3 separate regions of the Homo sapiens genome follow, and regions 2 and 3 are each linked to region 1. The links come from fine-mapping of genetic effects on gene expression. A gene starts in region 1. Each other region holds a variant in brackets. All regions are shown on one strand. Distances are between the middles of the regions. Region 1 holds the start of SLC25A4 (solute carrier family 25 member 4). Region 2 overlaps SNX25 (sorting nexin 25). Region 3 overlaps LRP2BP (LRP2 binding protein).

The links. PIP is the estimated chance that this variant, and not a neighbour inherited with it, causes the effect.
Region 2: its variant is the best candidate, but not a certain one, in a credible set for the expression of SLC25A4 in blood mononuclear cells (TOPMed, PIP 0.58).
Region 3: its variant is the best candidate, but not a certain one, in a credible set for the expression of SLC25A4 in Th1 cells (Schmiedel 2018, PIP 0.67).

The regions. Positions count from the first base shown.
Region 1 is chr4:185,139,907-185,148,088 of GRCh38, forward strand. SLC25A4 (solute carrier family 25 member 4) reads left to right here and starts at 3,360. Exons shown (of 4, transcript NM_001151.4): 1 at 3,360-3,577; 2 at 4,858-5,344; 3 at 5,853-5,993; 4 at 6,908-8,182. The coding sequence starts at 3,467. The coding sequence ends at 7,065. RefSeq lists a silencer at 3,132-3,431.
Region 2 is chr4:185,235,973-185,244,154 of GRCh38, forward strand. All of the region lies in intron 1 of SNX25 (sorting nexin 25), which reads left to right. Among named protein-coding and RNA genes, the nearest start is that of SNX25, 30 kb to the left of the region's middle. RefSeq lists enhancers at 3,751-4,743, 4,744-5,735. The variant C/T (reference allele first, on the strand shown) is at 4,699.
Region 3 is chr4:185,372,726-185,380,907 of GRCh38, forward strand. It overlaps LRP2BP (LRP2 binding protein), which reads right to left. Exons shown (of 9, transcript NM_001377440.1): 2 at 5,356-5,482; 3 at 4,184-4,293; 4 at 2,888-3,001; 5 at 1,594-1,736; 6 at 1,410-1,515; 7 at 131-354. The coding sequence starts at 5,461. It also overlaps a transcript of SNX25 not described here. Among named protein-coding and RNA genes, the nearest start is that of LRP2BP, 19 kb to the right of the region's middle. The variant C/G (reference allele first, on the strand shown) is at 4,810.

The DNA of each region.
Region 1 (8,182 bases):
AGCGCCATTCTCTCCCCTGCCTGTGTAAGTGATACCAGGATCTTGTGACCACAGGCAGCTCATGCTCCCGAGGGCATGTAAGGCCTCTCTTTTCTGAGAAAGTCCGTGGAAGCAGAGGACAGTGTATGAGTTTCCATGGAAAACCTCTTGTCAAGGATTCCAGCTATGACTCCTTCTATAGAACAGGATAACTGGAGAGTAGCCAAGGAGAAATATATCTCCCATTTAGAAAATATCCAAAACTCTGATTGGTAAAATTAAGTGTAACAAAGATGATACTACTTCCTGAATTCATATATTAATTAATATTTAATTTAGTTTAAATGTCTATTTAAAATCTTCTGGTGATGTTTAAACAATTGAACAACTTGATAGTAAAAATAAATCCAGACACATAAGCAGATAAAACTTTATTTTTTAAGTGATTGTAGAATCATATATCAGCCTATTTTTAAAAAATGAAGATCAAATAAATATGTCATAGTGTGGATATTTCATAAATTAAAGCTATTATGAGAACTTAATATATGACAAACTAGACTTAGTAATATAAGACAAATAATGGAGAGAAGAAAATATCTACTTAAGAATTAGTATTGGGATACCCAAGCATGATATGGAGAAAAGTGAAATTAGACCCATACCTCCATACAATATAAAACGTAGTGTTAGACATTTTAAAAATAGCTACTCAAAGTAGAAGAAAAAAACTGATATATGTACTAGAGTAAATAGACTGCTATATCTATAAAAGAGATACATTTACATCAGAACATGAAATAGATCATCATCATACCATAGATCTGTTCATAACACTAATAGAATGATATAATAAATATCAAAAGGAAAACAACAAAATGAAAAACATTCAACACATATTTATTGTCCCAAATATATAAAGAATTGTTGTTAATATAAATACTCTGCTTTCACTCCAGCAGTAGTCAAGGAAGATTAAAAGTTTATACAAAAGGGAAACCTTGTCAAACTGTCAAATTAAATTGAATCATATGGAATATATACAGCTTCATAGTAATTAAGTAAATACAAACTAAAACTCATAAATAACTCACAAATAACCAACTCTCTATTTTTTTAAAGCCAGTGTTGGAGAAGAGTGTGAGAGAAAGCCCATCTATATAACTGGTGGGTTGGTATTTCTGAAGAGCAATTTGTCAATATGTAGCAAAAGCTACAAAACTTTAAAAATCTTAAATCTATCCATTCCATTTGGGAAATATATGAGAAGAAAAAACTTAGAGGAGAAAATGAAGTTTGTGTAAGTTTCAATGTAGCAGTATTAGTTTTCCTTCCTTCCTTCCTTCCTTCCTTCCTTCCTTCCTTTCTTTCTTTCTTTCTTTCTTTTTTTTTTTTTGAGTCAGAGTCTTTCTCTGTTGCCCAGGCTGAAGTGCAGTGGAGTGATCTCAGATCACCATGACCTCTGCCTCTCGGGGGTCTCGTGCCTGAGCCTCCTGAGCTGCTGGGATTCCAGGCATGAGCCATCACGCCAGGCTAATTTTTGTATTTTTAGTAGAGATGGGGTTTTGCCATGTTGGCCAGGCTGGTCTCGAACTCCTGACCTAGGTAATCTGCCAGCCTCAGCCTCCCAAAGGTATGAGCCACCACACCCGGCCTATTTTTCATCATAAAAATAAGACACAATTCTAATGCACAATTAAAAGGAAAATGGAGGTATAAAAGCAAGTGCTCTATATTACAGGATGGGATACAGTACACTATTATAATTAAAAAGGTTTACTGTGTGGATTATGCTGATCCATGGAAATCAGTAAGTGAAGTTTTGATAAAGTGGAGCAAGTGACGAATACACTGAACTGTAAGGTCTTTGGAGATGGGCCACGTCTACTTATATTCAATCCACAGGGCTACACCTAGTTCTTGGTACACAGTACATGCTCAGCAAGAGTCTGTTGAATGAACACATACATGGTTTATCTGTTTGTCTCTTCCGAGTTCTTGACTTCTGTCTGCTCTGACCTCTGGCAGCTTTCCACTAGTTTCTAGCTTTCATTCTGCTTACCTGGATTTCGGAACTCTAGCCTGCCCCACTCTTAGATAAACGCATGCCCTCTGTGGCCCTGGAACCTTAGTGACTTCTGCTATACCAAAGTCTCCACGCCCAGGGTGACACGCAGCTGCAGCTCCGTAAACCTCTAACATGATGTCAGCAAATATTAAAAAAAAAAAGTTTATAAAACAATGAATAAACTTTGTTAAAGGTACAAATGAAAATTAGCAAACATGGGAAGATAATTGAGTGAAGAGTTTAAAGTTAAAAACGAATTGCAGTCATTCTAGGGGAAGGAACAGTTGTATTTGAAAACCTGTATGGTTACATGAACTGCCTAAAAAACAAGCTAAGGAAAATTAAAGCTCAGATTTATATATTTTAAGAAATTAATTGCAATTAATTTCCTGGGATTAAATAGCATTTCCTCAACCCCAGCTGTCATTAAAAAGAGGCAAATACAGCCAAGGACTGGATCTCCGGAAGGCTGACAGCACTGACCCTCAAGAAGGCACCGGCTGACAGACAGAACATTCTGCCCTAATATGTGCTGAAATTCCGCTGAGAGCAGAGTGGTACATTGAACCCTTTAGGGGCTTACAAAAGAAGTGTCCTGTGTTTTAGAGTCACAGAGTTTTGCAGAAACAAGTATGAATTCACCTAGTGGCCCCCTGCACCAGGTCTTTCCTGTGGGCACTGAGTGCCAGACACATCAATATGTAATAGCAGAATGAATGACTGAACGAACGATTGAATGAAAAGAAATGAGAGGCAGCAGGTTGTCAGATTCTATGAGGCAATCACAGCATCAGGTGACCTTAGTATCTATTTGAGAGGACTGCCATTTATTCTCGGGAGCGCACGGCTCTAAAGAGGCCCATATCCAGGCAGTGAGCTCTGGTGGGGGGCGCCTTTAGATGCAAGAAGGAGGAAACAGCTCGAAATCCCTGGGCCTGAGCGCGGCCCGTGCAGGCCGGAGGGTCAAGAACTCTCCACCGGCGGCAGCGGCCCGGTGTCTGCCCCGGCTTCGCCCCGGCCTAAGGCTGCCTGTGCTATAAATACGCGGCCCACATGCCGCGGTGACACGGTGTTCCCTGGGCTCGGCGGGACAGATAACATGAATGTGCCCTTTAAACGTCCCAAGTTGCAGGGACAGCCCCCGGCCCAGCCTCGCTCCCGGAAGCGCCTTCGCCCCCGATGCCCTCTGCAGCTGGGAGGAGGGGGCGCCCCGCACCTGCCCAGCCAATGCGCGGCGCGAGCGCCGGCCGCGACCCGCCTCCTCTCGCGAGAGCCCGGCGGGGATATAAGGGGGAGCTGCGGGCCAGGCGGCGGCCCCCTAGCGTCGCGCAGGGTCGGGGACTGCGCGGCGGTGCCAGGCCGGGCGTGGGCGAGAGCACGAACGGGCTGCCTGCGGGCTGAGAGCGTCGAGCTGTCACCATGGGTGATCACGCTTGGAGCTTCCTAAAGGACTTCCTGGCCGGGGGCGTCGCCGCTGCCGTCTCCAAGACCGCGGTCGCCCCCATCGAGAGGGTCAAACTGCTGCTGCAGGTGAGGACCGCGCGGTGCAAGAGGCGGGCGCGGGCGCGGCGGGCCGGGCGGGGCGCGCGATGCGGCGCGAGCTGCAGGGCGCGGGGCGCCGCGGAAAATCTGCGCCAGGCCACAGGCCCGGGCGCCCGCCCGCCCGCCCGCCCGCCCGCGGGGGAAGAAGGTGCCCTCTGCGTAGAGACAGGTCCAGCGTCAGTCGCAGATTCCTGGTGTCGGGTGGCGCCCGGCGTTCGGGTGTCTATATATGGAAACCCACCCGGAGCCGGTTTACGTGTGCCAGATCCTGCGCCCGTGACAGCACGGGCGTGCACTCAGGCCCGGAGGCACCTAGTGATTGCCAGTATTTTTGGCACCGTCTTATGCGCACGCACCTTTACAATAAAAACATCAAAATAATCATCACCCAAGAATTCCCTTATCGTATCTCATGCACAATGCTGTATGTAGGCTGACGCCTTCATCTTTATGTAACCTCTGTGAGAGAGTTATTCTTCTCCATTTTACAGATGAAGCTGAGGTTTTGAAATATTAAGAAACAATTTTCGGAATAAACTCAGATCATCCTGTCTCCAAATCTTTTCCTCCCCTACCTGGTCGCTGAATGGTTTATCATCCTCTCGTGTTTTCCTCCACCTGCCCAAAAGGTCAGGGCCCCTCAATGAGGAAGAGCCCAATTTGGGAGTCAGAATTACTAACAACAAAACCCCCACAAATTGCTCACAACGGCAGCAAACCCTTAATAATTGATTACTTGGATTATCTGCTTGAAAACTTTGGAGGCCTAATGTTTAGTGGATTTATTCTCCTTCCTCTATTAGAGCATCTAGTAGAGATCCTCATCTCCAGGGTGATCAGAGTGACACTGAGAAATTGTCATTTTTTGGCCATCATGTCTATTAAATCCAAAGCCCTTTGAAGCAGGGAGTGTTACTCATTTCTGTCCCCCAGTAAGCCCCTCATACAGTTCTCAAACCTAGGGAAAGTGAAATAAATAAATGGCTATAGCTTTATATAATTCAATCACCTTTTCAGTTTATTTGGGGCAATACCTTTTCCCTCAAATACCCTAATAATTGAAGCAACATTGGATTATTTTGGCTTGTTATCCAGTAACTAACATGGATAACAGTATCCATTTACACGTCCTCAGTATCCATTTGATTTCCTCATCCTTTTTTTCTTCAAAAAAAAAATCTAGGAAGTGCAAACCTTTTTTTTTCTCCTGTCCTCTTCCCTTCTCTCTACCCTGCCTGTCCTCTGTCACCCACCCTCCCCTCCACCAGGTCCAGCATGCCAGCAAACAGATCAGTGCTGAGAAGCAGTACAAAGGGATCATTGATTGTGTGGTGAGAATCCCTAAGGAGCAGGGCTTCCTCTCCTTCTGGAGGGGTAACCTGGCCAACGTGATCCGTTACTTCCCCACCCAAGCTCTCAACTTCGCCTTCAAGGACAAGTACAAGCAGCTCTTCTTAGGGGGTGTGGATCGGCATAAGCAGTTCTGGCGCTACTTTGCTGGTAACCTGGCGTCCGGTGGGGCCGCTGGGGCCACCTCCCTTTGCTTTGTCTACCCGCTGGACTTTGCTAGGACCAGGTTGGCTGCTGATGTGGGCAAGGGCGCCGCCCAGCGTGAGTTCCATGGTCTGGGCGACTGTATCATCAAGATCTTCAAGTCTGATGGCCTGAGGGGGCTCTACCAGGGTTTCAACGTCTCTGTCCAAGGCATCATTATCTATAGAGCTGCCTACTTCGGAGTCTATGATACTGCCAAGGGTGAGAGAGGGGCATCGGGGAGAAGGAGGGTGGTGTGGAAAGAGGATCCTATGGGATCTATAACTCACAAAGGACCTGATATATATTGATCTTGTTTTTTCTAGTCTCTGGGATAATTGAGGCTTCTGAATGAGGAGGTGATGTGCATAAGTTAATAGCTGAAGCGTTCCTTGTGTCCTCTACTGAAATAAACTCTGGCCTTTAGTTATTCAGAGAGGAGGAGGGGGGAGCCTGTCTCCCTCTAGACACAGCCATAGCAGTTACTGAGTTTAACTTGAAGCCACTTCCAATGCCCTGTATACAAGCTGAGCACTGCCCCTCCGGGGTCCGGAGAGGGCAGCAGCCACCTTTGCTGTCTGCCTGGTCATATGTGAAGCACCTGCACAGGGGCAGGTTCCCCGCAAGGTCAGAGCATGGAGCTGGAGGTGCAGTGGCCTCTCTCCCTCCACCTGCTTTCTGCTGAGAACAGGCACTTCATAGCCGTTCGGCTTCTGGGCTCTGTCCACAGGGATGCTGCCTGACCCCAAGAACGTGCACATTTTTGTGAGCTGGATGATTGCCCAGAGTGTGACGGCAGTCGCAGGGCTGGTGTCCTACCCCTTTGACACTGTTCGTCGTAGAATGATGATGCAGTCCGGCCGGAAAGGGGGTAAGCTTGTGCTCTACTCATCTAAACTTGTTTGGTTTTGCCCGAGGAGAACATTTTACAGGGCTCCTTTCAGTCTTCCTTACTGGAAATTAATTTTCAAAATTATTTGATAAGGACTTAGGGAAGAAAGATGGTATTAATTCCCCCTAACGTTCTCAACTATCCTATTAGGGAAAAGTATTTTCCATTTTATTAGAGATGATAAGAACATGAATAGTAAGACATTTAGATGTGAATTTAACTAGGTATCCAGCATTATAGAGACCCTAGGCCCTCTTCCCTTAGAGCCTGGGTGCAAAAGCTAGGGAAAAGAAGTAGTTAGCTACTTCTTACAAAGAACTCTTGCTTCCCTCCTAGTTACAGGTGTTAGTGGGATGGGGTGTTTAGCTGGGTAGAGATGGCCTGAAGCAATCTGTTGTGCCAGAGAAAGTTTTGGCTTCTATAGGTTGAACCATACGAAATTGCCACTTTAAAAGTCAAAAACAGTCCAATGTTAGCAGTTTCGTATGTTTCAACGAATAGTTACAGCCTTTTATTTAGACTGCATAACCTCGTGCAGGATCATCTGAGGCTCGGCCTCAGTTCGGTCCTCCATAAAAAAAGGTAACCGCGTAGCATAATACTCCTGCTCCACTGCGCCCTTCTTGTTTCGCAGTTGGGCAGTCCATGAATTACTTGGTTAATTGCCCCAGTTCTTCACTGACCTTGAACTAATGGAGTAGGAATGACAGGAGACCCAGCCTGCCAGTGAAGCAAGGAAGGAGATGTCCAGTGGGATGTTGCATGGAGCTGGGACTCCATGCCCAGATGACCCTGATTTTATAAAACTGGTAACAGTGTGTACAGATATGTTTCAGGGGAAAAGTCTCTTTCCTCCAGCGTTACGGAGCCCTCACCAGCATTTGTTTCCACAGCCGATATTATGTACACGGGGACAGTTGACTGCTGGAGGAAGATTGCAAAAGACGAAGGAGCCAAGGCCTTCTTCAAAGGTGCCTGGTCCAATGTGCTGAGAGGCATGGGCGGTGCTTTTGTATTGGTGTTGTATGATGAGATCAAAAAATATGTCTAATGTAATTAAAACACAAGTTCACAGATTTACAGTGAACTTGATCTACAAGTTCACAGATCCATTGTGTGGTTTAATAGACTATTCCTAGGGGAAGTAAAAAGATCTGGGATAAAACCAGACTGAAAGGAATACCTCAGAAGAGATGCTTCATTGAGTGTTCATTAAACCACACATGTATTTTGTATTTATTTTACATTTAAATTCCCACAGCAAATAGAAAATAATTTATCATACTTGTACAATTAACTGAAGAATTGATAATAACTGAATGTGAAACATCAATAAAGACCACTTAATGCACGCTTTCTATTTTATTGAACTCTTATTAACTGTAAAATGCATTTTTAAAAGATCAAAAATGCATATTTTCTAGCATGATTCATGTATCAGTCAGCAGCCAAGCTTCTAAATGCCAGATATTATATTGAGAATGTATTATATGAGAACGTACAATGCTTAAAGTTCCGGTTTTCAAACTTAGGCAGGTCATATTCTATCTATCTTATCCAGCATTACTGTAGGCTAGAAAGTGATAATGGCTTTCATAATCCTGCCTTGTCTTAGGCACTTTCCTGCAGTCTTTAGAAATTCTAAGATTCTGCTAAAAGTTTTAAATCACAATCTGGAGAATTTTCTATGATTAGGAAGTGCTCTGTTTTCATCCCTTTAGATAACTGTGACACCTAGAATTTTATGTTAAGTAGAGAGTATTCATTGAAAATCAAGGCCAGGTGCAGTGGCTCACACCTGTCACCCCAGCACTTTGGGAGGCAGAGGTGGGCGTATCACTTCAGGCCAGGAGTTTGAGACCAGCCTGGCCAACCGAGCGAAACCCCATCTCTAATAAAAATACAAAAAATTAGCTGGGTGTGGTGGCGCACACCTGTAATCCCAACTACTCAGGAGGCTGAGGCATCAGAATCACTTGAACCCGAGAGGCAGAGGTTGCAGTGAGCTGAGATGGCATGCCACCACATCCATCCTAAGCGACAGGGCAAGACTCTGTCTCAAAAAAAAAAAAAAGAAAGAAAATCAGTTGTCTTAGTTTAAGCTACTATAACAAGGTACTGTAGACTGATGGCTTATAAGCAACAGAAACTTATTTCTCAGTTCTGTA
Region 2 (8,182 bases), 96 kb after region 1:
GACAGAGGCCTGGAGTCAACACAATCTGTGGTAATTAACATTGTTGTCCCCCCTTGCAGGGAGCAGTCTGGTGTGCGGATGATCTAAGGTCGGTTTCCGGGCAACATAAGTAAATAAACTTATCTAGATAAACTCCTCTACATTCCCTTGCACCTACTTCTCACCCTCTGCCTCAGGGTAAGAGAATTAGCTGCCTTCAGCTTTATTCTCTCCCGAAGTTTTGCAAAACCTCCTGGCCTTCCAAGAAGGTTTGCATCTTTCCCTATAACTTTTTATAACTTTTCCCACCACCCTGACCAATCTCCTATAGTACCCAGGAGTTTGAGGCTGTAGTGAGCCATGACTGTGCCACTGCACTCCATCCAGCCTGGGCAACAGAGTGAGACCCTGACTGAAGAAAAAAAAGACTCCCCTGTGAAGCAAAAGAAAATTCTTGAGGCATTTAATCTTTTGAATCAAGTCAGAGTCCAAATCCACCTATATATTTTATAGACGCTTTTAGTATGATTTAGAACATTTTTGGTGGTACCAGTAGCATAACAGTGGCCACATTTTTTATTTAAATAGAAAAAAAAGATGGAGACAAACTAAATATAGAATAAGAGAATAAATTATGATATAAGCTATTCAAAACATTGTCTGAGTCTTTTATTATTATAAAAGATATTCATGATAAAATACTGAGTGTAAACAGCCAGATGCAAAGTTGTATGTATACCATGATCCCAATTTCTTTTAAAAAGTATACAGATGAAAAAGTTACCAATAATTTATTGTTGTCAGACATTGTTACAGTACTTGGTGTGTGTTAATTAATGCTCATATCAATTTTGTGAGGTAGGTACTATTGTTATCTATTTTACGTATGAGGAAAGTGAGGTATGGAAAAGTAACTTGCCCAAGGTTACATAGTAAGTGTTGGAATCACTGACAAGAAGGAAATGTACCAAAATGTTATTAGTGATCATCTGGATCATCATTATGAGTCAGTTTAATTCCTTACATCTATAATAGAGAATGTATTTCTGCTGTTTATGTAATTGGAAATAACAGTTTAAAAAGAAATTATAGCATTTTTGAAATTTAGGAAAACAGTAATATGAGAAAACTTGTAGGTTGAATTTTAAAGAATAGCTGCTCCTTCCTGTATCTAAAGTAGAAATTGTGCTTGACTAAGAGGGAAAAAAAGGCACAAATCCACTATTTTCTATTAATACACTCTCCCTAAATGATAACCTCTCAGTATCATGTTAACAATTTTCTGTTTTTTTTGATAAGGAAAGTAAGATATTCTTTAGTTCATGGTTCAGCACAATAAAAGCACAACTCAGGAAACTGTCAAACCAGGTTTTGTTTGGATACTTAAATGCTTTACGTCACAGCAAAACATCTCCAGGGAATGTGCGCTTTCCTCTCTGTAAAGCACATCCTCAAAGGCAAAAATACTTCAAGAATTATGTGCTCTGTTATGCTGTGTCTTACTGGTTGCTTAACTTTTCAACCCCTCCGTGCTTTTATTTCTGCCATTCCTGTGCCTTTAGAAAACCCCTCAATCAACCCACTTTGGATTTGTTGGAAGTTGGTAAACATTTTGAGTTGTATTTGTGATACTGTCTGGTGGGCGCTCTAAGAGCTTTGTGAGAGCAGCCATTACAGACTAGACGCCCACGGCTTGAACATGGCTCAAAGTTTAGCCCAAACAGTGGCAGCCTGCAGAGTTTGTAATAACGTTGAATTAGTTGGAGATATCGTCCAAAATTCATGACTTTTTTTTTTGGTGTTGTTGTTGGAAAAAAAAAAATCAGGCCGGGTATGGTTGGTTGCTCGTGCCTGTAATCCCAGCACTTTGGGAGGCCGAGGTGGGCGGATCACCTGAGGTCAGGAGTTCGAGACCAGCCTGGCCAACATGGAGAAACCCCGTCTCTACTATAAATACAAAAATTAGCCGGGCGTGGTGGCACGTACCTGTAGTCCCAGCTACCCAGGAGGCTGAGGCAGGAGAATCACTTGAACTCAGGAGGCGGAGGTTGCAGTGAGCCGAGATCACACCACTGCACTCCAGTCTGGGCTACAGAGCGAGACTCCATCTCAAAAAAAAAAAAAAAAAAAAAAATTTAGAGCACCTCTCAGCACAGTAGTTGCAATCCCCTTCACACATTTAGAGTCCTTGTCAGGCCCCTATCATCTTTTTTTAGATCCCTGATATTATTTATTTGATCCTCCTGAGGCATATTAGCCCACATAATAAGCAAGCTAGAGAGGGGAGTGGCTGGGTCAAGGACCTACCATTAGTAAATGGCAGAGTGGAGCCCGCCTGCCATGGGAGCCTGTGTTCTTTCTCTTAACACGGCTGCTTGGCTTCCAGGTGGGGAGTGACACTGTTGCTCATGTCATGATCTTTTGTCAGAATCTTAATCATATTAGGTGTAGGTGGCCTTTGAAGTTTCTTAGTCCCTTCTCATCCTTCTGAGGAGGGATATGCATATTTTCTTCATTTCTTTGGTTTTGAATAAATTAGTCTTTGAGGCTGAGGCAGAATATCGTTGTTTCGAAAGAGGTCCTGGTTTTGAGACTATCATAGTTTAAGAATGAGAGTATTAGTCATGAGATCCCAGTAGATTGTCAGATGCTGCATATACTTGGAGAGACTCAGCCATGGGACGGCTCCATGTGGTTAATGATGATTTTTGGGGAGTTTGTGTTTGCTTTTGTAAGATGAACCATTTCAGTAGCTTTATAGGATATTACACCTGTCACCCCTTGAACTCTGTACAACTGTTTTCCTTTTCAAAATAGCACCAAAAATACATCAAACTTTTAAATGTATGTAATGGAGGTGAGAGACACTTGTTTATTTGAGAAGACCAGGTAATAGGCATGAAGAAAATTGCACGTTACAGGTTGGCTGCCCTGGCTCCCAGTGAGCAGTGTCCTACTTAAAAACAGTGGACAATGAGGTGTGTATGTTGGCTGGATTCCAGGGAGTTCCTGATTGTTCAGTTGCTTCTGGTGTGAGTACTCAGGTTTCTCTGCCTGGCTTCTCTCTAGATGTTGTTTCCTCATAAGAGGGTCTGTAGTAGCCTTGACACAAAGACAGTTTGAGCGCATTACGGCTGGTACTCTGGAGTAAACAGAAAGCTGATATATATTCAGAAAAGGGTTTATTGATAAAACGTACATGCTTTTTCATGCTGAGGATCTGTCACATATATTAGAGAAAAGTTTTCTGCCAGGCGCGGTGGCTCACACCTGTAATCCCAGCACTTTGGGAGGCCAAGGCGGGCAGATCACTTGAGGTCAGGAGATCGAGACCATCCTGGCCAACACGGTGAAACTCCGTCTCTACTAAAAATGCAAAAAATTAGCCGGGCGTGGTGGTGGGCACCTGTAGTCCCAGCTACTCGGGAGGCTGAGGCAGGAGAATGGCTTGAACCCAGGACGCGGAGCTTGCAGTGAGCTGAGATCGCACCGCTGCACTCCAGCCTGGCAACAGAGTGAGACTCCGTCTCAAAAAGAAAAAAAATAAAAGCTTTCAAGTTTTGCTCTGTCTTTAGAAAAATACTCTGAAAATGTTCTTAAAATTTTCTCTCTCTGCAGAAAAACTCACTGGGTGATTAAAAATGATCTTGATACGTTGTTTTCAAATAGGTTTAAATCTTAAAATGAAGACAAAACTTTATTTTATTTTTGTTGTTGTTTTTTAAATCTTTTTTATGCTTTGCTTTCTTTTTTTTTGTTTCGGTTTTTTTTTGTGTGTGTTTTTCACTTATTTAAATAGAAAATAAGGTGTATTTTTTTTTTCTTTTTTTTTTTTTTTATTGATCATTCTTGGGTGTTTCTCGCAGAGGGGGATTTGGCAGGGTCACAGGACAATAGTGGAGGGAAGGTCAGCAGATAAGTGAACAAAGGTCTCTGGTTTTCCTAGGCAGAGGACCCTGCGGCCTTCCGCAGTGTTTGTGTCCCTGGGTACTTGAGATTAGGGAGTGGTGATGACTCTTAACGAGCATGCTTCCTTCAAGCATCTGTTTAACAAAGCACATCTTGCACCACCCTTAATCCATTCAACCCTGAGTGGACACAGCACATGTTTCAGAGAGCACAGGGTTGGGGGTAAGGTCATAGATCAACAGGATCCCAAGGCAGAAGAATTTTTCTTAGTACAGAACAAAATGAAAAGTCTCCCATGTCTACCTCTTTCTACACAGACATGGCAACCATCCGATTTCTCAGTCTTTTCCCCACCTTTCCCCCCTTTCTATTCCACAAAACCGCCATTGTCATCATGGCCCGTTCTCAATGAGCTGTTGAGTACACCTCCCAGATGGGGTGGTGGCCGGGCAGAGGGGCTCCTCACTTCCCAGTAGGGGCGGCCGGGCAGAGGCGCCTCTCACCTCCCGGACGGGGCGGCTGGCCGGGCGGGGGGCTGACCCCCCCACCTCCCTCCCGGATGGGGCGGCTGGCCGGGCAGAGGGGCTCCTCTCTTCCCAGTAGGGGCGGCCGGGCAGAGGCGCCCCTCACCTCCCGGATGGGGCGGCTGGCTGGGCGGGGGGCTGACCCCCCCACCTCCCTCCTGGACAGGGCGGCTGGCCGGGCAGAGGGGCTCCTCACTTCCCAGTAGGGGCGGCCGGGCAGAGGCGCCCCTCACCTCCCGGACGGAGCGGCTGGCTGGGCGGGGGGCTAACCCCCCCACCTCCCTTC[C/T]GGACGGGGCGGCTGCCGGGCGGGGGGCTGACCCCCACCTCCCTCCCAGACGGGGTGGCTGCCGGGCGGAGACGCTCCTCACTTCCCAGACGGAGTGGCTGCCGAGCGGAGGGGCTCCTCACTTCTCAGACGGGGCGGTTGCCAGGCAGAGGGTCTCCTCACTTCTCAGACGGGGCGGCCGGGCAGAGACGCTCCTCACATCCCAGACGGGGCGGCAGGGCAGAGGCGCTCCCCACATCTCAGACGATGGGCGGCCTGGCAGAGATGCTTCTCACTTCCTAGATGGGATGGCGGCCGGGCAGAGACGCTCCTCACTTTCCAGACTGGGCAGCCAGGCAGAGAGGCTCCTCACATCCCAGACGATGGGCGGCCAGGCAGAGACGCTCCTCACTTCCCAGACGGGGTGGCGGCCGGGCAGAGGCTGCAATCTCGGCACTTTGCGGGGCCAAGGCAGGCAGCTGGGAGGTGGAGGTTGTAGCGAGCCGAGATCACGCCACTGCACTCCAGCCTGGGCACCATTGAGCACTGAGTGAACGCGACTCCGTCTGCCATCCCAGCACCTCAGGAGGCCGAGGCTGGCGGATCACTCGCGGTTAGGAGCTGGAGACCAGCCCGGCCAACACAGCGAAACCCCGTCTCCACCAAAAAAATATGAAAACCAGTCAGGCGTGGCGGCGCGCGCCTGCAATCGCAGGCACTCGGCAGGCTGAGGCAGGAGAATCAGGCAGGGAGGTTGCAGTGAGCTGAGATGGCAGCAGTACAGTCCAGCTTTGGCTCGGCATCGGGGAGACCGTGGAAAGAGAGGGAGAGGGAGACTGTGGGGAGAGGGAGACCGTGGGGAGAGGGAGAGGGAGAGGAGGGAGAGGGAGAGGAGGGAGAGGGAGAGGAGGGAGAGGGAGAGGAGGGAGAGGGAGAGGAGGACAGGTGTATTTTTTTTTTTACAGGATAGCGGTCTGGTTCACCAAGAGCTTTTATGAGTTAATATTGTGATACGCATACTGAAAACTTAAAGCAAGAGTAGAGTACCCTGTCCTCGTTTCTGGACCAGGATACTGAAGATTATCAGTTATCCTTTGTGACAGTGGGCAAAGTACACGTATTTTTCTTTCATCTTTCCTAAAACAGGCATTTTAGGAAGATGATTGTCAGGAAGAGGTTGTCTTTACCTGAAGCCTATGCTAGCATAATAGAGTAAGTCTTTGGGGAAATCTGCCTTGTGAAGTTTCTTTTTTTCAAACCTATAAATAGGAGAATGAAGACAATTATTGTTTGGTTATCCTCAGAGCCACAGGAATTTATTCATGTTTTAAATTTGTTGAATTTTCATTAGCTTCTTTCTCTTTTTTTCTGAAATTTCATCTTGGGGAAAATGATTAGTGGATTCTACCCTTTTGACCTGAAAGAAATAAGAGTATGTAGTGGCTGCTCATTCAGACATGAGGAGATTCTGGCTTCAGAAATATTAAATCCGTAAAAAGGAATTTCCATGCAGAATGTGTACAGAAAACTTTTTCCTCTACTTTCATACCACAACAAACATAAACATAGAAGATTTTTGTGACCAAATGTGTGGGGTTTTTTTCCCCACACACCAAGCAAGCGGACACCAGCTGGGTGTCCTCTAATTGTTCCAGCATCGTCTACCTGGAGACAGTGTCAGAGCCCATAGATTAAGTGAAGCTCAGTCCCCAAGAGCCCTCAACCCCCCACCCCCAACGTCAGTCTGTAAGTCTGGGCTGCTGGAATTTCTTACCAACCAGCTTCAATTTGAGGTGCCCATGAGCCCCCTTTGGGTTCAGTTAATTTGCTGGAGCAGCTCACAGAACTCAGGGAAACGCTTACTTACATTTACTGGTTTATTGTAGAAGATATTGCAAAGGATGCAGATGAAGAAATGCTACGGTGAGGTATGGGGGAGGGGTGCGGAGCTTTCATGCCCTCCCTGGGCACCACCCTCCAGGAACCTCACATGTTCAGCTGTCCCGAAGCTCACTGAGCCCTGTCCTCTGGAGCTTTCCTTCCTCTAGAGTATAGGGTGGGATCTCTGATGGGAGGGTCCTAAGACCCACAGTCAGAGAGGCAGGGGCCCCTGAGAGTAGAAGGAGGGCAGAAAAAGGTCAGAGACTTGCCCCCGAGGCCCGACACACCCAACATTATAACAAAAGACTGTAACAAGGGCTGTGGGAGTTAGGAGCCAGGAACCCTGGATGAAAACCAATATATATCATAACACTGCACATAGTAACCCAGTTATTTTTGGCCCATGAGGTGTTTTTTTCTCTTTCCTGTTCTCCTGGCTTACAGATTCTCCATCAGGCTATGGGGATGGGATAGGAAAAAAGAACTGTTTTCTTTCTAGTAAGGGCCAGTGATTCCTAGCGGGTGGGATGTGGGAACTTCAGAACCAGATTGGAAAATCAGATTGAAAGAATAATAGGTAGGGGTTTTGCTTAAATAGAGCTAAAATAGAAAACATTATTCTCATAAACCCATCTCCCTTGCAATTTGATTTTTATTATGGTAAAATACTTATAAAATTTGCTGTCTGAACCATTTTTGAGTATACAGTTCAGTGATACTAAATGCATTTATAATGTTGTGCAACCATTGCCACCATCTATCTCCATAACTCTTTTCATCTTGTAAAGCTGAAACTCTGCTAGGCATGGTGACTCATGCTTGTAATCCCAGCACTTTGGGAGGCCTAGGTGGGAGGATCGCTTGAGGCCAGGAGTTCAAGACCAACCTGGGCAACATGGGGAAACTCCCATCTTTACAAAAAACTTAAAACATAGCGGGACACACACTTGTAGTTCTAGCTACTCAGGAGGCTGAGGGGGAAGGATTGCTTGAGCCGGGAGATTGAGGCTACAGTGAGCCAAGATTGCACCACTGTACTCCAGCCTGGGTGGCACAGTGAGACCCTATCAAAAAACAAAAAAACCCCCAAACTGAAACTCTATACCCATTAAACATTAACTCACCATTCTCCCCTTCCCCTAGCTCTTAGAGAAACCACCATTTTATCATTAAATAAATGAAAGGCCTTATTCAGATGTAGTCAGTAGTGACAAACATATGTTTGCATGTTACATGTAAGTATGAAGTAGTGAGATAAAAGAAATATACAGACACAGGGCAAGAGGTAGTAGATCTGTAACTAGGAAGATAAAAAATAAGAATAAAAAATTAAAAGTTTTGAAGGAAGTTATAAAGATAGACACATATCCAAAGAATATGCTTCAGATATGCATGTACTGTCAGTCATATTCATACCCAGCCCTTACAGGCAGTTTCCATTTTAAGAACTCAAATTCAGGAACAACTCCTTTCTTTCTTTTTTTTGAGACAGTGTCTTGCTATGTTGCCCAGGCTGGAGTGCAGTGGTGCAGTCCTGGGTCACCGCAGCCTGCATCTCCTGGGCTCAGTCAGACCTCCTTCCTCACCCTCCTGAGTAGCTGGGACTACAGGTGCCTGCCACCAA
Region 3 (8,182 bases), 230 kb after region 1:
GGTCCTCCCCTCTGGAGGTTGCAGCCCTCTCCTGGCCTCTGGAACTGTGAGAAATAAATTTCTGTTTCTCATAAATTACCTAGTGTGTGATATTCTGTTACAGCAGCACAGAACAGACAAAGACATTCACCTTTTGGAAAATGCAACACACTTTGTAAAAAATTTCATCTTATAGTAATACTCCACGAGATTCCCTTGAGCATAGACGTTTCCGCGTTCTGCTGCTTCTCTTAAGCACTGCAGGGCAGCTTCCGTATCCTGCCGGATGCCTTGTCCATACAAGTACATGAGCCCAAGTGCACCCTGGGACTCCAGATTCCCATTGCCACATGCTTCGGAATGCCAGTAAAATGCCTAAGAAAAGCACAGTTTCATCATTGTATTTGTGATCCACTAGATGAAATTATAAGGGAATACTAGACAGAAAAGAACTCTGTGTTTCCTAGATAGCACTATTAATCATCTCTAGGAAAGAGCGGTAGGCCTTTGGACGCATTTCACACTAGCACACATGCCTAACACAGTGTGGAGGCGAGTTCCTCCGCTGTCTGTCCACAGTGCAGGTGAGATCACAGTCCAGGCAGCTTATGGCAGAGGAAGACCAGCTGTCCTAGGTTTCAGGATTTGGGGATCTTCAGAGTAAGGATCAGGAAGATGCCAAATAGGAACTCAGTGTCTGAAAGGCGTGAGGCACAGCAGAGGAGGGGAAACCACTGATGCTAAGGGAGAGTTCGAGCTCCCGGTGGATTCTAGAGATAGCAGCTGCTGCGATCAAAGACAACCCAGGATAAACGCTGTATGTAGGCTCAAGCACATTTGCCTCATACTCTGCTACAGTGAATTTGAATTCATTTAAAAAATTCCAGATGGCTGCTTATCTATCCAAAGATGGCCTTAGTTGTTATGTGTCTCTTGCAAATTTGCCATTAACTCCTCTCTCACAAGTAGGACTCAGCCCCCATTTCCTTCTCCTTATAGGATTTTTTGGAAACTGTTTCAACCATTGATGAAAGAGATTATATTTCTGTGAAAATCTTAGATGGATTTTATTTGTAACTAATTCTTGGTATATTTTACTTATTAGTATCAATTTCTCAAGTCAACGGTAATATTCATCTGTTCATGCTTAGAAGGATTTTGGCTGTAATTTCAGGACTGTTTCTCTTCTTTTAGCTTTGATACTATAGTATACAAAATACTCTCACATTCATGGTTTCCTTCGGTAGAGGTAGGGAAGGGGACATTTATAAATAAAAGGGCTTTGAGATCCTAAAATGTATGCTTTCTTTACATTTAAAGGAACTATAAGAGATATTTAAAACGACATTCCCCACCATTTTCTCAAAAAAAGCAGTGAAACAAATATTAATCTAAATATAACACTAGCATTAAAAAAGAGGGAACGTTACCTTTTCTAACTCCTTGGGCTCCTTGGTTGAGTAATACAGCCCGAGCATACTTTGAGCCTTCACACTAGCTTTGGGATTTCCATTGTCTGCTGCGATAAGCCACAGTCTACAAGAGAAAGTGAGGCATGTTATTCTCGGTTTCAGCATTTCCTTCAAACCTAATCTTGTTCTCAGGTAGGATTACCTTTCAGCTTCCTCATTTGATCGTTTAACACCTTTTCCTTCATAATAAGCTCTTCCGAGGTTGTAAGCAGCTGCAAATTTTAAGTGTCTTGCTTTGGGACATGGAGAATCAAGAATTTTCTTCATATAGTCCACCCCTTTCTCCTTCGACAAAAGAAAGAGCAAAAAAACCCTAGTTTTTAGTTTTACCCAAACTGAATTTCTTTCTCCCAATAAGGCTGTGAAGTGTCCGCCCTCTGACACGATGTATAATACTATGAATCTGTGCCCAAGGGGTACAATTGTCCTGGATTCTGCAGGGCAAGCGATAAGGAGGAAAAGAATCTCTAAAAGTACATCTCCTACTCAGGCACTCCCAGGAGCTCTGGGATATAAGAAATTTCCTTCCTTTTACAGCTGCCTGAGTTGATTTAAGTCTCGATATGGGCTTCCTTTTTTCTCTCCTCCCTCCCATCTAATAACCCTTATCCTGAATCAGCACAGTTCTTAGAACTGGCTAAAGTGGAAGAATGGCCAGGAACAGCTTTCACATTTATAATTCTTACGATACACTTGCGAGCCCCTAACAAACACCGTCTTCCATTCAAGCATACTTTTACTGTGTGCTCATAGTTTGTATCTAATATACAAATCTTATGCACTAATACGACATCTGCTACGTGGTCACAAGGAAAGCATAGAAGATATTCTAACCACTAGCAAGAACAGATCTGTACCCTCCACCCCCAAATCCATCAGACACAAACCTTCAAACATCACCCAAAAGAAGAAAATAATATTGGACAATCAAATATATTTTGGTTTTTGTTTGTTTGAGACAGAGTCTTGCTCTGTCACCCAGGCTGGAGTGCAGTGGCATGATCTTGGCTCACTGCAGCCTCCCAGGTAGCTGGGAATACAAGCATGCACCACCATGCCTGGCTAATTTTTGTATTTTTAGTAGAGCCTGGCCAACATGGTGAAATCCTGTCTCTACTAAAACTACAAAAATTAGCCAGGCGTGGTGGCAGTGCCTGTAATCCCAGCTACTGTGAAGGCTGAGGCAGAAGAATCACTCGAACCCGGGAAGCAGAGGTTGCAGTGAGCCGAGGTCGCGCCATTGCACTCCAGCCTGGGCGACAGAGCGAGACTCCGTCTCAAAAAAAAAAAAAAAAAAAAAAAAAAAAAAAAATATATATATATATATATATATATATATGTATATATATATGTATTAAAATATAAATAATTTTAATTGTGTCCAATAATCCACTGACAATGAAATCTTAACCACTGTGACCAAGACATTAACTTACAGCGTCTAGAGTGGTCCCCAGCCCATCATAGTACATCACTCCTAGCTGGTAAGTTGCTTGATGGTCTTTCTCCTTGATTTCTTCAAACTGTTCTAATGCTTCTTCATACCATCCCTAGAAGCACCCAGAAGATATTTAATTATTTTTATTATGATCTTAAAGTAATCCCAAAGGCACCAAGTGGTCAAGTGTTTGTGCCCAAGTTAAACACACAGTTAACAAGCAATGCAGCCATATCTGAACCCATGCCCCACGCTGAGGAAGCATGCTCTCAGCCATGGTGCTCTGCCATCCTCAGAGTAACAGGCGCACGATGAGCCCTCAGCAAACATTTGTTGCCAGGATAGACGAAGGTGCCATCGAAAAGTGAGAGAGTAAGTGGGATATAGGTGAACAGCTGCCCAAATAGTCAACAAATGGTGAAAGACAGTCAGTCCCTTTTCAAGTCTTCCCGGGGAAGTCAATGAAAAACCGAAACTACATTACTGAAGTTGAGGGGACAGCTGGCATAGCCATTCCTCAGTCTACTTCCCAGGCCACCCCAACAAGATGTGGAGAAAGAGGGCGATTTCCTCCTATGCTATCCAGGAACAACTAAAGCTTCCCCTAAGTACTAGATAAAAATCAAGGCTTCAATTATTATTAATATGAAGATACCTGGTAATACAAACATACTTTTTTTTGAGAGGGAGTCTCGCTCTGTGGCCCAGGCTGGAGTGCAGTGGCACGATCTCAGCTCACTGCAACCTCTGCCTCCTGGGTTCAAGCGATTCTCTGCCTCAGCCTCCCAAGTAGCTGGGATTACAGATGTGTGCCACCATGCCCAGCTACTTTTTTTTTTTTTTTTTTTTTTGTATTTTTAGTACAGATGGGGTGTAGCCATGTTGGCCAGGCTGGTCTACAACTCCTGACCTCAGGTGATCCACCTGCCTCGGCCTCCCGAAGTACTGGGATTACAGGCGTGAGCCACCGCACCCGGCCTGATAATATAATTTGTATTATTAAATATTTTGAGCAAAAATATAAAAATTTGATTTTTAATCTATAGTGTGAAATGGATTTTATACTAAAACGACTCCCATAAATGGCTTTCATGACATGGATTTTATGAAGAAAAGTCAGGTAGCTCCTCAAGCTGGCAGCACTGTATCCTACTGTTAAAGCCACAGCCATAGTCGATGTAATTGGACAGAATTTCCCTAGTATAACACAGTAAGAAACTCTACATGAAATTTTTGTCTGAGGATCTAACAACAGAATTACAGGAAATGAAAACGAATAAACAAAAAATGATACCTCTTCAAAATATAGTTGACCTCGTAGGAAATATGCCAGAGTGTCTCCTTTCAGTATTCTTTCCTTCAAGAGCTGCAATGCCTTATCCACCAAATTAGCATGGGTGTAATCTGATTTTAAAAAGGTAAGGAATTCCATCAACCACACAATATGAATTTTCTCTCTTGAAGTAATGAATCATATAAAATCCATCTAACACTGTTGACATTCTTGCTTTCTAGTGCTCATTCCTACAACTGGCCTCCTTAGCTCAAGGAAGAAATATTACCTGAAAAAACGTCATGGTCACAGGCCCTAACACTGTGCCTTGTGTAATAAAGCAATACTGGCCGGGCGCGGTGGCTCACGCCTGTAAATCTCAGCACTCTGGGAGGCCGAGGCGGGTGGATCACCTGAGTTTGGGAGTTCAAGACTAGCCTGACCAACATGGAGAAACCCCGTCTCTACTAAAAATGCAAAATTAGCAGGGCGTGGTGGTGCATGCCTATAATCCCAGCTACTCGGGAGACTCAGGCAGGAGAATAGCTTGACCCCAGGAGGCGGAGGCTGCGGTGAGCCAAGATTGCATCACTGCACTCAAGCCTGGGCAACAAGAGCGAAACTCCATCTCAAAACAACAACAACAA[C/G]AACAAACAATACTTGTTGATTGGTTTCACACTAACCCTGCTCATGGCCAAGTAGAGCCCTAACAGTGCAGGGCTGGGTATAAGTCTATGCATTGGTTTGTCTTCAATGGGCAAAGCTCTCTGGAGAGGTGAGTTAAATTCTTAATTTGAGCCTTAATGAGAGTTCCTCTAACCAAATGAGCAACCCATCCCTAATATAACATTTTTAAGACTTTAGGGAAGATAAGGTATTTAAATAATAATTGCAAGTCAAGCCTGGCATTGTTCTCTTTAACAAACGTGACATCTGCTTTCTGTTTTCTAGAAGCATGTCCTTAAGTCCTGAGAGTAAAATCAAGACCTAACTATCTGTGAGACCTCACTGACGATTTGCTACCAGATAAATGAGCAATTTCACAGATTCTTGCGGGAAAACTCAAAAGGACTAATGATTAACCACTTCCTTGAAATCAATAAAACACATTATTTCTTGTCTCGTTTGCTCTAGCATGCAAAATGAACTGTTAAAGTGTTTTCCAAGGGAAGCTTAAATATCAGGATTTGTACCAGTCTTTTCCTTTTTCCACTGGAAAAATTTTTGGTTTTTAGCAGCATACTGAGATACAGAGGCATAAAAGGGGTTCTTGGGCAACTTTTCACTGGTCAACTTCATCCTTTTTCTGCAATGTGTATTCTATAAGCAAGAAGAAAAAATAAGTGGTAGAAATTTCTTCCTCCAGCGAAGTGCAAAGAGAGACTCTATTCCCACCAGGTGCTCATTAGGAAAAGCATCCTTCTCTCATCGCCTAGATAGAACACCAACCACCAACTCCAGGACGTGAACATTCTTTACTAGGACACCAAGACCCTCCTCCCTAGCTGAGAGACAGCCATTCTCCATGTCATTTTCCACAGCATCGCATTCACCATGAGACCTGTTTGCACGTCCTGTCTGGCTATGGGTTTATACATCAAGATGGGTCAAGTCACCCAGCACAAGTGTTGCCACTTAGTGGGACCTGGTGACACTGCCCACAGTCAGAGCTCTTCTGCACTGGTACCTTCTCTGCCCTTGTAACTGACACTCATCGGACGAATCCATTTCAAATTAAAGCACTTGTCTATTTTACCTGGGAATACACTTTATTTTAGCTGTTGTTGAGTTTTATCTTCCTGTCTGTATTGGATTGCCATGTTATAAGATGGATCACAGTTGAATGGTAAATCAGTGTCTTCATATAAAATGTAGCGGTCACCTCATTTGGGGTGAAGGAGTCCAGGTTGGCCTAGGCTGAGGGTAGTGAGACAGCAAACTCAGTTGTTGCTACACTTTTGTATTTACTCCTTGGCATTCCACTGTTATGGCTTACTTTCACCAATCAGAAACAAGCTTCCAGCAAAGGTTCCTGATTGGTGGTCAAGAGAAGAAATAGAGAGACCCTTAGTGTGATTGGAAAGCTGCATTTTTATATCATTCCATGATGCTATTTTAGACAATAAATTGCTTAAGTGAGAATGAAGTGCAGAAAAAAGGAACATTTAGTAGGGGAAAAAAATCACTGAATTATCTTTGTGATTTTGGAAGAGTCATTTAATCTTTTTAAGAGTCAATTTCCTCATCTTTAAGTTGGACTATAAGTGGTCTGCATTAAAGGATTTTATAATGTTCCTTTTTAGATATATACAATTCTTGATTATATGATTCCCCAAATCTTATGGTTGCCTTTAGTGAATATGAAATTTCCCAATGAGCTTTACTTAGGGTGAAGCAATATTAGGTAAGGTATTAAGAAGAAAAACAATCCCTATCGGATGGTGCAGATAGCACTCATTTATGACTGAAAGATTGGATGTGGAAGTTTTATTTTCATTGAAGACATTAACTCAATATGCTACTTATCCAAAAAGGCTAAGAAAAAACTGGCATATTCAGGAAGGGCATCAGAAATGAAACAAATCAGAAAACAATACCTTACTTTGTTTAAAACTCATGTTGCCTTTTGTGGTTAGAAGACTGCACATGGTTTTTGCTGCTGTAGCTTAAAAGAAGTTTTGGAGATGTTTGGAAAACTAAATCAAAGATTTACTGAGCTCTTATTAAATGCCAAGTATTGACCTTTGTTGTAAGGCTTTCTAGGCAGCGCCGACAAAACTTTACGAAATAAGGTTCATTATGAGGCTCGTTTAACGTATGGGGAAACCAAGGGACAGTGGGGAAGTTAAGTAACTTGCCCAAGGCCACAGGGCTAGTTAAGGACAGGTAAGCAGAACAGCTGGCGTGTCCCAGCACCTGCGCACTTCTCTCTCTCTCTCTCTCTCTCTGAGACAGCGTCTCACTCTGTCATCCAGGCTAGAAGAGTGCATTGGTACAATCATAGCTCTCAACTGCAGCCTCAACCTCTTGGGCTCAGGTGATCCACCCACCTCAGCCTCCCAAGTACTTGGGACTACAGGCATATGCCATGACATCCAGCTAATTCCTTAAAATTTTTGTAGAGATGGGGTCTCCATGTTATGCAGGCTGGTCTCAAGTTCCTGGGCTCCAGCAATCCTCCTGTCTCAGCTTCCCAGTGTGCTGCGGTTACCGCAGTGAGTCACCGTGTCCAGGCAATACAATAAATATTGCCTTTTTGATGGATTTACTGGGTATTTATTGGATTGACTAGATATTTATTATGTTTTGGGAATTTTTAGCTTCCTGTCTTGGATTGGCGTCTTTTATTAGCTCCCAAACATTCTCAGGGATAATTTATTTGTGTTTGTTAGTTTCCTGGGGCCGCTAAAACAAAATATCAAAAACTTTGTGGCTTAAAAGAACAGAAATTTCCTCTCTCACAGTTCCGGAGCCTAGAAGTCCAAAATCAAGGTGTTGGCAGGGCCATGCTTCCTCTGGCCCTAGGGAAAAATCATCCTAAGCATTCCCCACCAGCTTCTGGTGGTTTCTGGTGATGTCTGGTGTTCCTAGGCTTGTAGTTGCACAACTCAACCTCTGCCTCTGTGTTTACATGGCCTTCCCTTCATGTCTCCTCTATCTCTGTGTGTCCTCTCCTCCCTCTTATGAGGACACCAGTCATTGGAGTTGGCACCCACCCTAATCCAACATGACTTCCTCTTAACTTGATTACATGTAAAATATCCTATTTCCAAAGAGGTTCACATTCACAGGTTTCAGGAGTTAGCACTCAGATATATCTTTGGTTGGAAACACAAGTCAACCCACCATGCTCTTCAGAGGCCCCAATCTATTTCATTTTTCTCTCCAGCATTTTGATAAGACCTTCTCCTCATGTCTCTTAAATTTGCCTTTCAGATTTTCCATCGTTTTTTTTCTCTCTGACACACTCTGGGTAATCTCTTCAGTAATCTCTCCCTTTTTATTAATTCTCTCTTTAGC